Regions from separate parts of the Homo sapiens genome. Here region 2 is linked to region 1. A link means that fine-mapping ties the variant in region 1 to the expression of a gene that starts in the linked region. Tissue or cell type: whole blood. Region 1 holds a variant in brackets; the other region holds the start of a gene. All regions are shown on one strand. Distances are between the middles of the regions.

Region 1 (8,106 bases):
AGTTTTACCATTTGTGAGAGCAAATGGTCATGGTGATGAATAATACCTATTCAGTGTATGCAGTCTTATTGGACTACTCAAATGCAGTGTACGTAAAATGAAAAATTTCAGAAACATAAGTAAATGTTTATAAAACAAACATAAATTTTGTTCTTCCACCCTCCTGTAACTTTGTCATCACTTCCTCATTTTTAAATATAGTGTTGTTGTATGTATAGCTATATCATGATCAGGCAAAAAAGTTAATAGGTTAAGTTCAAGCCAGTAACTGTTGATAGTTTTTAAACTCTCAGATAAAATATTTAATGTTGGAGAAGGAATTAGGAATTGGCTCATGGATAAAACAGAAAACCATCACCTGCCAGTGACCTCAAAATCTTATTTTAGCTAAAAGTTTTAACCATCTCCTCTTCTAAACCTGTAAGTGGAAAATGAGCTACAAATAATAAATTATTTATCAATTCCACTGAACTCTGCTTTTTATGAGACTTCTTTCCATTACCCCAGCATTCCCAACTCCATATACAACCACAGATTATAGCTGGTACGCACCTTCTTCCCCCTAGGACATGCAGGTTACACTTTCAGACTACTGCCTGTTGGATTCAAATTATAGTTGTTTTTGCACTTAAGAATTCTTGTTACCAAGCTTGCCTAGTTGATCGTCTAGTTGACTAGGAGATAAATATTTCTAGAAGATGACACACAAAGAACTTGCAACTTCTAAATAGGGAGAACACAGAAGAGAAAGTAGAATCACCCAATATAAAGTATAGAGTCATTTTGTGCCAGGGCAAGCAACCCGGCAGTCTGGAGTCATCCCTGAATTTATATTATATTGTAAAAATGGATGCTCAAAAAGGTTGTAAAGTGGGCAATATATATATTTAGACCAGTCTTAAGCAAAAATTTCATTTCTAAATATGTAAGCTTAAGTCTTTTAGCATATTCACTTATGTAAACCATCTCATTTCCTTATGGCAGATAGATTAGACTTACCACCCTCTTGTCTGAACATTTCAGTACAGTGCAATTTGTCCTTCACCTAAAATGTTCAATGTGATATCTTTTTGTAAGTCAGGGAGTGGAATAATGAGCCTTCTTCTAGGTAATATTGCCAAGCTATCTTATCCTTCCTCACTCAGAGAAATTTCCAGGTAAATGATTTTGGTTATCAGAATGAAATTACTCATCTAGTCCCAGAGCTACTGAAGACACAGGGAGTAGGAGGCAGGTCTTCAGACTCCAGGGGCTGTGTTTTCCCCACTACACATGTGGTTTCTTCTCAGTCAGCTTTGAGCTGCCGTGTTGCCCAGCTCACTTGCCTGTTCGGGAGATGTGGCAGCTGATGCTTAACACTTCAAAACCATTTTCCCGGCCCCTGCAGCACCTACTGTTCTCTTCACCTTGAGTTTTATGAGAGCAAGAACTTGATCACTCAGCTTCCCTTCCAAACCCGCTGTTACACTCCTGACACCTGTTTCCTGTTCAGGGACATGAGAAATGTCTGTGTCCATGCAGCAAATTCAGTCACACTAGCCACGGTTTCTAAAGTAAACATTTATTGGAAAGTTTCTTGTCAGATTCATTTGATTAGGGATAGAGGTTATTCACCACCGTATCCACTTCTGTAAGTCCAAAGAATGCAAAGAAAGCTTGACTACTGCTGTGTCCCATGTGACAAATGTGTTTTACTGCTGTTTCCTGTGAATGACACCACTTCTCTCGGGGAATCGCTGAGCTCGGGATGCTGAGGCGACACCACCAGCTGGGTTCTCTACCTTCCTCCTTACTGGTGATGCTCTTTCCTGGAAGTCGTGTGTGGCAGAGATTTTAGTACTTTTCTTTTCAGTTCTGAGAATTTTCCCTGGGGCTTTCATCTCCCTCTCTTCTCTGGGTCTGAAGCTGCTTGTATTTCCATCTAGTTTTTTGTACTCTCCACAGCCAGCTGGATTTCCTGGCTTCCGGTTACCCATTTCCTCCCCACTCCAACCACCTCCTGTCATTTTACTGCCCCCTACCCCTCACCTAAATTATTCCCTCTGATCTTTACCCTTCCTCCTTCACAGACTGCTTCAAAGATCCTTTCCCAATAGGTTCCTATTAAACACCATCCCAGAACAAACTGCCTCCTTCTCTCGCCAAATAAACCGCTTTCAATAAGCCTCTCCCAACCCCCTAAACAAATAACATCTTGTAATCTCTATCATTCTAAAATATTGCTTTTCATAATCTCCAACAATTGGCTCCCTTTTTCCCCTTGAAGAAATAAACTCAGTGACCCTTATTTGGGCATTGAGCTGCCTCAATGAAACTATAAAATACACACATACGCACACACACACACAACTTCCCAAACGAAGATAACCTAATACAACCTTTTGCTTTCCCTTTCTCCAAGAAAGAAAACTTTCACGAAGTATGTAAGTACCCACTTGCGTCTTTCGAAGATTTTTTTCCCCAGTGAAACAAGCTAAGGAGAAATACAGTAAAGTATTCCAAGGCCAAACACATTCTACTGTTTATTACACATATTACATTCTTAAATAAAAATGCGTCACATAACATTTTTTGCATAGATATCTTACAATATACCAATTTAAAAAAGAATTATGAAACAGACCAGTAACAAAAATAAATTTTTTCTTCATTAATAATTTTGTAACATTAACATACCACCATCATATAATACAAATAATAGTTTTAAATCTTAAGACTTTTGTACAGCAAAAAAACTTGACAAAGTAATATATTTATATATATATATATATAAAAAGCTTAAAAAAAATAAAATGTCAAAAAAAGGCATAACCGAGGGCTATAAGACTGGGTACTTCTGTGATATATTATAAATACCAGAGAAGGCCTGAGAGAATGTGACGGGGGGAGGCGGGGAAGGAGACGGGGCTGGGAGTAGGTCTCTCCAAACACACTTGTTAGACACATCTGGCAAAAAGAAAATGTATAGTGCAAAAATAAATTTATTCAAGCAACTGTTAAGAGGATAATAGAGATTTGAAAGAAAAGTTTCAGTGGCTGGGAAGTTGTGTGGGAGTAGGAAGTGGGAGAAGGAGCTTGACGCGGGGGCGGGTGGGGGCTTGTGGAAAGGAAGGGGAGGCTTCAAAAACATTAGACATTTATTTTTGCCTCTGTGTTAGCAAGGAGATCTTGGCCATTAACAGGTGTATTTTTCCTCCCTGGAATGAAGCAGAAGTGAAAGATAAGGAAATTAAACTAAGTCTGGGTTTAGATAGGAAATGCATGCTGGGAAGAAAAAACAAAAAGGTTGAGAACCAGCCAATAAGCCCCAAAGCCTTCAGGACCTAGGTTTGCAGAAATCGTTCTGCCTCCAGTCCAAAGGCCTAGGTTTAAAATGTCCCCTCTGCCCACCCCCAACCCCTCCCCGCTATGTGGAACTCCCAGTGTGGTTTCGATATACTGGCAATTATAAGCATCCATCCCCCCCAAAAGATATTAGGCACTGGTGGCTACTCCTCCGAAACGTCAGTAGCCTGTTTTCCTTCCGTGAAGGTACGACAGGTACATATGCGCATGTCTAGGTGCGAGCATATATACCACCCTCATTATGCTGACGTGGGGTCCATCTTATGGCAGTAGACAGAAGCTGGACTCACAGCAAGTTACGATTCCAAAGCTCACAGTTGAAAAAAAATTGTATAAACAGTCCCCAACAAAGAACATTATCAACCTTCCCTCATGACCACTGAGAGGGAGCCCTGTTTGAAAAGAATATCTTGTTTGGGATATTTGTGAAGTGATGGCCCAGGATTTCTCTCTCTGTTTTTGACACCTGTTTCCCGAGGACTTTTATGTTAAATGCAAAACACCTGAAAAATACAGTACTCTATTGGAAGGATGCACATAAGAAAGTTAACTGCAGCTTTATTTTTCCCTTTTCTGGGATCTATTAGGAACCAACAGAGGAGATTTAAGAGTGTTAAAAGCAAGAAAAAACCCTGAAGCCTCAGGCAGTTCGTCGTGGGAGGTCACGTTATTTACAAGAAGTTTCTGCTTCCTTTCACACATTTCTGTTGTTCCATCTCAAGTATTCCCAAAGATCCTCACTGAGGAAAGTAGGCCATCAAAGAGACATTGATGTATACTCAGGATAGGCCCTCTAGTTTTCAAACTGAGATATCACCATGTTCACCGAAATTTAATCCAGACACCCTGAATTTGAGTCCTCCCCTCCTGCCCCCCAACTCTTGCGCTTGGCAGGTGGCCACTTCCCGAAAATGCAAAGGAAAGCTTCCAGGAGTAAATTTCAATCAGGTTCTATTTACTGAATGTTCATTTTGGCAATGTTCTGGGTGCAAAATTGTAGCCAGAAATGCTGGCCCTCTTAAGATTTCAAAAAAATTCTAATAAACTAAAAAATGAACCTGATTTTTGTAGTTAAATGTGTTGCATCTTTATCTTACTTTGCCTACCTTCTTCCTGCTCCTAAAAGCAACTCATGCAAAAGAGAAGACAGAAGCACTTCCCACTTTTTACTTAACA[T/A]TTTATGAAGTGACTTCCATAAAGGAAACCATTTTGAACCATCAAAACGAGTCACTGGGTTTTGTTCTTGCAACTTGAGTTTCTTTTGGCTTTGCCATAAAATGCAGGAATAAAGGCAAGAGGCAATGTTCCGAATGCACTGGAAGAGCCATCCAAAAGCCCCATTTCTTTCCCCTTTGATGCAAATAGACATGGATAATCTGGAAAGCTTATCCCAAACAAAAGTCCTTATAAAATCTTCTCTGAAGCCAGAGAAGATTTTTTAAAACTAGGATTCAGTTCTGCTAATCAGGCATGAGGTTGGCTGTCCTTTTACCCTGTTATCATCAGGCAATCAAAGATGTACAAAGGGCACAAGAGGTGCAGGTGGAGAGGAGATGGCGTCGAGAGAAGAGGATATTTGAAGGGCTTTGCAAGGGAAAGCACACAGAGAGGAGGAAATGGTCAGCATGAAGTTCATTTTGGGGTCTCCAATATTTTTACAAAAATGCAGCTTTGTCATGGAATCTGAACATCTCTTTTTCTGGACATAATACTCATTACCACCAGGCATTGAGCTGAGCCATTAACCATGGGTGGGGCAGGAGGCCAGTAGCTAGGAGCAGCATTATAATTTCAGGTTTCCATGTCTATGACTTACAGTCATGTGGCAGGAGAAAGAAGTATAATTTGAAATTACAAAAAAAAAAAATTGTCAGTGGCTTAGAAACTCTTTTTCTACATGAACAAATCTGAACCCTGGATAAAAGCGTGCTTGTTAGGACACCACCAGAAACACCAGGCCGGGTTTTTCCTTTCAAATTTGGGATCCCCTGGAGGGTTAGGAGGTAACAACTGAAATGAGAAAGGGGTTTAATGTGTTTCAAATGTCCATTAATGCACTGTTTTAAATAACCAGTCCTCTTGGGAGCAAAATGTCTTCAGGTTACTTCTTGGAAAACCTGCTCGCTCTAGCGGCTCTTAGTAACCATCTCTGCCACTGCAGAGGTGATGGACGTTTTATTACAAATCCATTTCCAAAATGATCAGGACTGGTCATCATTCACAGGTGTCAACTCGGCTAAAGAAGAACAGTTTCAAAGCCATCCACTTAGCACCCACCAAATTCTTAGGCCAATTCTCACAGTCAACAAATGACTCTGAAGCAAGCAAGCACCACCATTGAGTTTCAATGCACCCTGCTCCAAGAAAGGTCAGGAGCAGATTACAAAGGACCTCACTGATACAAAAGAGAGAGAAATTACTGAACATTTCAGACACTGATGAGGACCAAAGGGCCTTTGTTCTGCCACATTCAAATGAGACCACAGATGAAAATAGGGAGCAAACAAGCAATGATTACTCTTTTGCATTTTTTAAACTTTCTTTTTAATAGAGCCTTGCATTGGTCAGTTCGAAAATTAAATTAAGTATTATAAACCCTTAATAATAGCATTCGAGAGGCAAGAGCAGCTCCAGCTTGGGAGAGAACATTTGCAAATCGTGGTGGCCATGGCTTAATGCCATCACTGGCGTGTGCGTGCATTCATGCTGGAGGCTGCTACATAAAGGAAAAGAAAGGAACCAACAGAATTCAGGGTGTCTAAAAGTTTCATCTAGTGCACTGACTGGAGGCGCTACAGTTTAATACAGCTGAGGTTCAAGGTCCCTCACACATCCTTCATCCAGGAAGGATGCACCACACATTCAAATATAATCCCATGGTACGCCCTGATGGACTGGCCACAAAATGCACTCAAATGCAGCAGAGAACTACGAGATTGTCAGCAAGCAGTGCTCCAGAAATTGTTTTTAAGTCATGTCTAGTTTTAAATCTTTGGAATAAAACTGATTTTTAATACCCTCCAACTAACATACATACAATTGCCTCCGGCAAATGGACAGATTTTGTGTGTGTGTGCGCGTGTGTGTTAACGGGTGTTCTTTCTTTTTTTTTCGTTTTGTATTATTTTGTTTTTTTTTTTGTTTTTGTTTTTGTTTTTTTTGGTCTAAATAGAAAAAAGGAAAAGGAGAAAGTAAATTCTTAGGGCCAGACCTCGAAATGCCCCAAGTGTCCAATTGGCAGCTATAGCATTTGTGAGGAGGTTCCTTTGCCCTCAGACGAGTAGTTTCAACATTTCAGTGAAAACAAAGGTTGCAGAAAGCTGAAAACCCAGATCTTGAAGGTTGCTGTCATATATGTGTTTGTGTTTCTTATATTATTTCCTTTTGACTTCAGTTTTGCATCCCAAATATGTATGGGGTGGCATTTTAACAGTCAATGAGTCAAACAGTCAAAGGAGGACAGGAGGGGAGCCAGCTGGTAGGAGGGAGCAGCAACCGTGTGTGGACCAAGCGCCATTTTTGTTTTATAGACGTGTCTTGAAGGGATGGTCCCAGAATATACAAAATATACAATCTGTCCTAATAACCACCCCGCTTGCTTGCATAGGCCATTTGATGGTCCTAAAGGCAGTCTTTGGAGTTGAGGCCAGTGCCAGCTAGCTAGGAATGCGGGTAGATAGAGACCACTACTGGATGTGTGAGTGTGGCATGACAAGTAAGGACTGTAGACTCCTTTGGAGTCAGCTTGCAGAGTAAATGTGAGGCCTCTGTTAATCCTGGGGGTTCTAGGTCACAAGTCATGGTGGGCCTAGCCAAAAAAAAAAGGAAAGAAAGAAACGTGTCTCTCCTTTTAGACAGCCCATGAGAGAAACACCTCAACCTTTTCCTTAAATGTCAACCCTTCACTCCCACAATGGCGTTTTAAATTGTGTATTGTAACACGTAGGGGAATAGGAGCTCAGTGGGCATGACAGAGAAGACAGGATGATCTTTTGTGAAGCCACTAGACTTGGGAGGCATCCTCAGTTTTCCCCACTCCTGGAAAGAGTGATATTTTTGGCTTTTTGTCAGGTCATAAACCAGAGTTAAATTAAATACGCAGCTGCCCTCTGAGACTAGCGACATCTATGCTGTAACTGGTTATGGGGTAGCAATGACACACAGCACAACGGTTGATCACTATGAGCTGAGGTCATCATGCCTCAAGGAGGATGAGAGAACTGTGATGTCCCATCTGACTGGCTGCTTCGAGAGCTGGACATCCAGGTGCCGAGAGAGTCCTGGAGAGGTTTAGTCCATGGAGAAAAGATAAAACATTTAAGCTTCCAAATAAGCTTTTCAAGTTTTCGTTAGCAAAAACGGAGAGATTAAAAAGAAAAAATCTAGCACTGGCAATAAGGTGAGGCTCAAGGGATATACTGTGATTTATCATCAAGGACTTTATTCTCTTGGCCACTTTGCAGTCATGCTAGAAGTTTCCAGAATCCCTAGTGCATATGGTGTGCAAAAGTCAAAACGTAAGAAAAGAAAACTCCTCCCTTGAGAGTGAAGTCTACAGAAATGCAGGCCAGAAAGGTGTAAGGTGTTATTCCAGTCTGCCGCCGCTAAGGCCGTTGGGATCGACGCGAAAGATCTCAATAGTACTAAGAACCAAAACCAGTCAACAGTTCTGTGAGGAAGTCTGACGCACGGAATAGTAGGACTTTTCACACACAAAGGACAAATAAACCAAGAGTTAATTTTGGCTACCAAACTGCAATT
Region 2 (8,106 bases), 90 kb after region 1:
GTTATATGACAGGCAGAAAGATGATGTTACTTGGGCCGAGTGCTTAAGTATGCAGTCAGAGCCCAGGAATGGAGAGCTGTTAATGTGTGATGTCCATTTGGATTTCAGAATTATACCAGCAACGATTATTTTCAGACTTGGAGCTATGTGGCTAAGGCATCATTGCCAGAAAATCCAATGTCAAAACGAGGATCTCCGTGACGAGAGGGAGCCCTGCCACAGTCAGTGACTTTGTCACAGGCTCACTGACTATTAAGCAGGACAATTATCCCATATCCTAAGTTTAAAATAAAATCCCCAAATTGTTTATCTTCAATTTTCAAACGTAAAAATGTTCTTGAGTTTATCATCGAAGCCACTCTTTCTCTAGAAACCAAGTCAGATTATCAGAGTCTCCACATTTTGCTCATCTCCATGAGCCCAGGTACATTGTTCACTTTAAGAAGAACATCTAATAATTACTCCTCATTTGACCTCTAAAATCTGATTACCCCAGAGCATAAAGAAACTTCTTCCTGTCTGGGGTTCTTTGCAGAAACCCTGTTGAGCTGTTTTGAGCAAAAGAGTCTCAAAATTTCATTATCCGATAGTTGATTTGGAACTAACAGTTGCATATCACCATCACCACCCCTTATACTCAGAAGCAGCAAGACGGTTTTGGGAGGGGGAAGAAGGAAGGGCTAGAGGTTAAAGGTTTTGTCATCAGTGTAAACCTATGGTCCTAGTCGCCTTTATATAGAGCAGTTGTGATTACGGAGTCCAGAACATAAAGCTCACTGGAGTGATATATTGTTTATTAGTGCTTCCCCACAAGCTATGCATCAGCATTGGCTATAAGCATGACGCTGAATAAGTTGGCTAAGGGTTTTAAGGTGAGAGTGGCTGGCAGTTGGAGAGGGTTAAGGCAAAAAATGAGGGGGTTCCGAGGGGTGAAAAATCCTTTGCCTGTAGAAACTAAACTAGAGCTTCCCTGAATGGGGAGGAGGCAGAGGAGCAGGGGGAGGAGGGGAGAAGGAAGAGCAGAGATGGCTTCTTAGGAAACAATAGATCTAATACATCCTCTAGTTGTCAAACCGATGATGTTTCTTTGCAGATCTAGAGTTTGTCCTGGATGGTCTAGCCAGATCTAGAAAAGCAGGTTTCCTGTGAAGAGACCTTCCTCCAAATCTGGCTTTACTACTCTGAAAACTTGAACCAAAACAAAGTTGCATGATTCATCAGTAGGGAACGTTCTAACAAATAAAGCCAACTTTCTTCCTTCTAACACTGCTTAACAGTTAGTCACAAACAAGGGCTGCCTTGGGCAGGCTGACTAAATCAACAGATTCCCTTCTCTAACCTGTCTAGACAGTTGTTAATATGCAACCGATTCCATACCAGTGGGCTGACAGTGTGAAATGAAGGCTATTTCAGAAGATTTTGGTTTAATTAGCATTGGAAATAAAAGGAAGAAAAAGATCCAGTGAGACCCTTCATGAGACACACTCTCGTTAAGGATAAGGAAAAGGATGCATTGAAGAAAGACTTTATTCTAAAAATATGTGAACTGTGTATGTGTTTACAGAGAGACAGAGTCAAGCATCTGCTAGCGTCCTTGGACAAGAATGCATGTGTGGACACAGAGACACCAGACGCCAATACCTGGAGGAAAACTCACAGCCTCTGACCAGAAGTGAACTAGCAACAATGGTACAGTTAAAGGATCCGCCTTGCCACTCGGCTCCTTATACCAAAAGCCAAACCTCTTTTGCTAAAGCAGAGACTGTTACATCTCAGCCTCAAGCTGGCAAATCCTGCTTTGGATCCCGGCAGAGGAAATTCAGCCGTTCATTAGCCTTAACAAGCTGCTGTCACTAAGCGAAGAAATTACACGAGCAGCCACACACCGAGCCTCTCACAGCCCTCCCCCCAAGGGCAAGCGGGTTTCTCCAGGACGGACTGTACAAGTTCACACTTCCTATGTGCAAATCCGGACTGTCTTCTTGGACTTTCCATGGTGCACACTGTACAATTTTTAAATACCCGTGTCCCCCCGCCCCCACCCACCATCTTTCCTGCAGAATGTCCCCTCAGCAGCTCCTAATCGCTGCTGAAAAAAACCACTGTTTCCGCAGCAGAGCCAGCACTTTCCACTGACCAGCACTTTCTTTATTCCACTTCACAAAGCCCAGTGAACTTGTCACCAGCCCCACTTCATCCTCCCTGGGACGGCTAGCCAACTTGGCATCGGTGCCCTTCAGCATCCTGGGAGTTTCTTAACTAGTCCTCTAAGACAAAGTCAAAGGCATGGAAGCACACATCAGCCTTTGTCCGAGGTTGTGCTGCCTAACTAGAGAAGGACCCTAAACAAAAAAGAGAAACAAGGACACGCATAGAGGGTGTTCTCTTTCTGGAGGGATCACACTGGGAAAACCTACAATTCATTGTCAGCCTCAGCTACATCTTCCCGTCCTCCTTGAGTATCTTTTGTCAGTGGGCTCTTCTCTCTTTTGCCTACCTTCTAATCTCAAAATCAAGCTCCTATTCTTTATTGACACTCGCTAATTACTGAAAAACACTCCGCTTTGCTCCTGCCCACCCTCCCCCGCCCCCCATCCGATGGTCATAAGCACCAGTTGAAACAGATGAACCTGATTTCAGGTATCAAGTGGGTAGAGCTCATGCATGCGAGAACGTGGTCCCTGTCAGCAATCGCTCCTAACACCCCAAACCACCTTCCCACCCGGCTCCTCCGAACCCCAGAAGTTCGGCAGGTCTCTGATAGGGGACAGCAAACCCGACAACGTGTGCGCAGGGATGTGTGTTGGCGACTGAAACGCAGGCAGCTCGCACCGGCTGCTCAGCTCGGCACTCTACGAGGTTAGGGGTGGGTGGAGAGGTAAGCGCAGATGACTGTTTCAGAAAACATTTTCAACAACAGACAGCCAAAAAGGAAGAAAAAAAAGTCAAACAAACAAACAAAAATTTCAACCCAGAGCCCACACCAACGCAGCCCCTGCGTCTCCGCCGCCACCACACGATTTACACAAGTAATTTAAATCATTCACCTGCTGCCAGGTCTCCTCCAGGGATGGTAAAGCTGAGAAGTAGCCGGTGTCGTGGACAAGTTGTAGCTCCTGGAATATACTATAACTAGCCAACACGTCCATGCTGCTGCTGCCGGGCAAAACGGGAGGCGAAACCCTCCCCCGAACACAGTTGGGGCTGTTTGTTTGTCAGTCTGTCTGGCTCACCCCCCAAGAAGGCAGACATCCAGTGGCCCTTTTGTTTTGTTTTGTTTCAGTCAACTAAAAAGGAAAAAAAAAAATCAATGCAGGAGAGGGAGAGAGGAGGTGAGAGAGGAGCGAGTGAGTGGGGTGGATGGAGAGAGGCATCCAGCGTGTACAGTGCAGACGACTGCCAGGAAAAGGGGACTTCTCCACGGGAGTAACAATTCCCTTCCAGGGCTCTAATCACTCCAGCTCGTGGATCAGGAAGGGGGATGCAAACTCACTGACACGAAGCTGCCATCTATTTCTGCAGCGCTGTTCGCTCCTAATGCAATCTTTGCTCTTTATTTTGGGAGGTTGCATTTTTTTCTCTCGCGATCGCTTCTCTTCCCCCCCCTTCCCTTCCCTCCCCACCCCCCACCCCATCCTTGCTAGTTTGTAGTCTTCCCCCTCCCTTTTCTCCTCCTCCTGCTCTTCCCCCTCCCCAAACTCCCTCCCTCCGTTCGGTTCTCCGCGCAGCCGTGGGATCTCGAGGAGGGCGTCCATTAGGCCGCGTGTGACCATGTAAGGTAAACAGGGGGCTCATGAAGTCACTGAGGACCAATGGGGAGCCCGGAGCAGAGCCTGGGGCGGGGCTTGGCCCTGGCGGCGGGCGCGGATTGGCACGCTGCGGATCTCCCTGCTGCCTTACAAGGCGGTGCGAGGCGAGCTATTTTTAGAGGGCTATATAAGGGGGCTGAGGCGGCCGCCCGGCGGCCGGGCAGCGCGAGCGCAAGGGACAGGGAGGGTCGTGGCGACACTCGCGCCAGCTCCCGGGACGGCTGGGCTCGGGCTGGTCGCCGACCTCCGACCCTCCACTAGATGCCTGGCAGAGCCCGGCGCGTCCGGAGCCCGCGCCCCTCAGAGGGAAGGGGTCGCGCGTCGCCGCGGCGGCCCTGAGGCTGACGGTCGGGAGGTGAAAGGCCGGAGTGCGGGGTCAGGACGCCTCCTGGAGGGGGCGCGGCGCAGGGGGCCGCGGGGAAGCCGCCGAGGGCGCGGAGCGGGAAGGAAGGACAGTGGCCACCCCGCCTCCGCCTGGGCACGGGGCAGGGACCCGCGCGAGGCGGTGCCGGGGAGGTCCTCACGTACTCAAAAACAAGCAGAAAAGGCATCCAGGGCCCCTTCCCGAACTCCCCACGGGCTGCCAGGGTGCAGAGAAGAAGCGCCTGAGGAGGAAGTGCCACACAATGGGAGAGAACAAAGGGGAGCGGAGCGAGACCGCGGCCTGCGCCCGCCCCCCGCTTGCGCACAGTCCCCGCCCCGCCCCGCGGGCGCCGCCGCCGCCGCCCTCCCTCCCGCGCCTCCTTCTGACCCCGAGCGAGAGACCTGGTCGGGAGTCCGGCGGCTAGAGTTGATTGCAAGGGGCCTGTTGCTCGACTGTGCGTTAAAGAGGCTAGAGGGAGCCTAGGTAGACGTGGGGCGCAAGCTGGAGCCGGCAGCTTGCGAGGGGGCCTTTACGTGATGAGGCTCACCATGGGGTCTCCAGCGAGGTGTCTGCAGAGCTTCGATGGTGAGAGGAGGAACTCGATTTCTCGTTTTCTGGAGTTGGGATGTAGACATAGAGAGATCTGTTACATCTGAGATGAAAACCCTGCACAATTCACGTTAGGGTTGGCCAATTGTTTGCTTGACCTTAAATGGTTAGTGTGGTTTAAGCTTCCCCAAAATGCGCTGTGAGCTGAGCTTCCACTTTTGGAATGATTGCAGAATTCGGTGCTTAAGAGATGAGAAACTTCGTTCTACCAGTAATGGAAGAAACGCTTCACCTTAATCACCCTCCTTGTCTTTCCCCTCCCTTTGACTATGTAGGACTCGATAACACAACATTTGAAAGATTCTACTCTATGAAATAAGCACAGATTGAAATTCAGTATTTGCCAAGGAATATTAAACATGAATTACTGGGATTGAGGAAAGCCTGATTTATTTACTTGTTAGTGTCTGGAATTCTGTTGGCCAGATTCATAGCATTCATTGTATGAGTATAATTGGAACATTTACTCTAATGTAGATGCAGATGCATCTGCAATTAGATGTGCAAGGACGCTGCCAGCTAACTAGCTGCACGACTTTGAGCGAATTACTGGGTCAGAACTTGTATCTACCCATCTCAGAAACAGAAATAGTGGGATCCGCGTTGTCTAGTTGTTATGAAGAGTCAAAATATCTTTGGTAACTCACCTAGCATAGTATCTGACACTATTAGGTGAATACTAAATATTAGCTATCATTGTCTCCCCACTTGAGCTATGTAAACTAATAGGACCTTTAGGAGAATATACTATTAATAGAATCTTGGAGATAGAGGAAAGGTAGAAACCCCTTGCTAGTTTGTTACAAGGTCTCCCCTTCTCCATGCTCTCCCCTGACCCCCATGCTATTTCAACTGGGGGGATGGGCAGGAACCATTGAGAAACACTAGGGCAAAAAACATGTTCATGAATAATAGGGGAAGGAAAGGAACTTGGGTATAGAAAACTAGAGGCAAAAGGTGAGGCAAGACCAACCATATAATTTGGTACTTGAGACTCAAGTGAACTTATTTTGTGTGTGTTACATTATAACAATTTTTGAATAAAATAGGACATATCGGTTAACGTGAGTTTGAAGATTTTACAAATAATAGTTCCCATTTATTAAGCACTTCGAATGTGCCGTATGCGCATAAACACTTTATATGCAATGTCTCATTTAATCTTAAGGACAGCCCCAAAGTATCCCCAACTTTATGGATGAAGATACCCACGCTTGGAAATACTAAGTAAGTTGGTCAAGGTCTCACAACCTGGAAGTGGTCAAGCAGGGGTTCAAATCCAAGAGCATCTGACTCCCCACACTGTTCTGTACTGAGCTTTGTATGGTGAAAAATGGGGTTCCTCAGCTTTAAGTCAGTGTGTGTTTACAAAAATTGCTTGGGTGGGGCCGGAGGAGGAGGCTTCCATTGAGACTTTTCCTATGTAACTATCAGCCGTCTGACTTGCAAAAGGACTCAACCAAAATTTTACAAAGCAAATACTGCAAACCTCATTATGGTCTTTGCTCCAAGCTTTGTAGAATATTTTAGATTCATTTTAAGAGATTTATGCAGCAAGGCATTCTGAAAGGCACATTTTCAATATTAGTTATATTTAGCTACTTTTTATACCCTAGAGACCCAAGATTCACATTGCAAAACACATGCAAGGTATCCAGATGTACAAAGTAATCAACAAATTAAGATCACAAGAGAACTTTGGCAGTTCAGCAAACCAAAATAAACTGCACTGTTGTAACTACCACTTACTGGTTGATTACCTTCTTTGTACCTAGCATTTTACACATACCTCTGATCTCCACAATCCTGTGAGGGAACTCTTAGTGCTCCATTTTTATAGATGAAGATACTGAAGTTTAGAGAGTGCATGTAATTTGCTCATTACCATGTGTCCAGTAAGTGGGTAAAAGCAGATTAGAATACAGGTCTGCCTCCAAATCGACTCCAAAATCTGTCTTCTCCACAAGTATTGCCTTGGGAGGTGTTCATTTTACTTCTAATAATGTCAATCTTTGGAAGTAATCCTATAGAAAACACCCTAGAGTAAATAATAAATTATCCCCCCACCCGGGGGGAGCTTAGAAATAAATGAGGATATTTTAAGAATAAAATAGTAAAAATTTAATATGTGAATACACACATTAAAGGCATCAGGCTGTTTCCACCAGTAAAGTTTTGCTTCATTAGTGTAGGAAGTCTTTATTATCCCAGTGTGATTAGTACTCCTCAAAGTAAATCTACTTAAAGCTGGGACCAAATTTCAGACCAATCAGTGAAGAAAGCTTTGCTTAAGACTTTATTTGAAAATAAAACTAAATGTTATTAAAATACATTCATTCTGTCCTATATGGGCATACCTCATTTTATTGTACATAGCTTTATTATGCCTTGCAGATACTGCTTTTTTATACAAATCGAAGGTTTGTGGCAACCCTGCTTGGAACAAGTCTTATCAGCACAATTTTCCCAACAACATGTACCCACTTTATGTCTCTGTGTAACATTTTGGTAATCCTCACAATAGTTCAAACTTTTTTTGTTATTATATCTGATATGGTGATCTGTGATCAGTTATTTCGGTTTTACCATTGTAATTGTTTTAAGGCACCATGAACTGTGCCCAAATAAGACATAGAACTTAACTAGTGTGTGTGTGCGTGCTAATTACTCCACCGACTGGCTCTTCCCCTCCTCTCCTCAGGCCTCCCTATTCGTTAAGACACAACAATAATGAAATTAGGCCAGTTAATATCCCCACTATGGCCTCTAAGTGTGCAAGTGAAAGGAAGAGTGACATATCTCTTTAAATCAAAATCTAGACATAAGCTTAGTGAAGAAGGTATATCAAACACCGAGATAGACCAAAAGCTAGGCCTTTACACCAAACAGTTGGCCACTCTGTGAATGGAAAGAAAAAGTTATTGAAGGAAATTAAAAATGCTACTCCAATAAACACACAGATGATAAGAAAGCAAAACAGCTTTATTGCTGATATGGAGAACGTTTTAGTGGTGTGGATGGAAGATCAAACCAGCAACAACATTCTTTTAAGCTAAAACCTAATCCAGAGCAAAACCCTGACTCTCTTCAATATTACGAAGGATGAGAGAGGTGAGGAAGTTGCAGAAGAAAAGTTGGAAGATAGCAGAGGTCGATTTATGAGGTTTAAGGGAAAAAGTCATCTCCATGACATTAAAGTACAAGGGAAGGAGCAAGTAGTAATGTAGAAGATGCAGCAAATTATCCAAAAGACTGAGCTAAAATCATTGATAAGGGTAGATGATGCAGCCTTCCATTGAAAGAAGATGCTCTCTAGGACTTTCA

Evidence for each region. PIP is the estimated chance that this variant, and not a neighbour inherited with it, causes the effect.
Region 2: KLF7 starts here. The variant in region 1 is fine-mapped to the expression of KLF7 in whole blood (INTERVAL, PIP above 0.99).

The regions. Positions count from the first base shown.
Region 1 is chr2:207,072,592-207,080,697 of GRCh38, forward strand. KLF7 (KLF transcription factor 7) reads right to left here. Exons shown (of 4, transcript NM_003709.4): 4 at 1,546-8,106. Among named protein-coding and RNA genes, the nearest start is that of MIR2355, 33 kb to the right of the region's middle. The variant T/A (reference allele first, on the strand shown) is at 4,522.
Region 2 is chr2:207,162,420-207,170,525 of GRCh38, forward strand. It overlaps KLF7 (KLF transcription factor 7), which reads right to left and starts at 3,529. Exons shown (of 4, transcript NM_003709.4): 1 at 3,048-3,529. The coding sequence starts at 3,149. It overlaps MIR7845 (microRNA 7845), which reads left to right and starts at 3,981; the gene lies at 3,981-4,079. RefSeq lists enhancers at 1,122-1,830, 1,831-2,539, 3,141-3,240, 3,248-3,956, 3,957-4,664 and 1 more and silencers at 3,731-4,370, 4,991-5,040.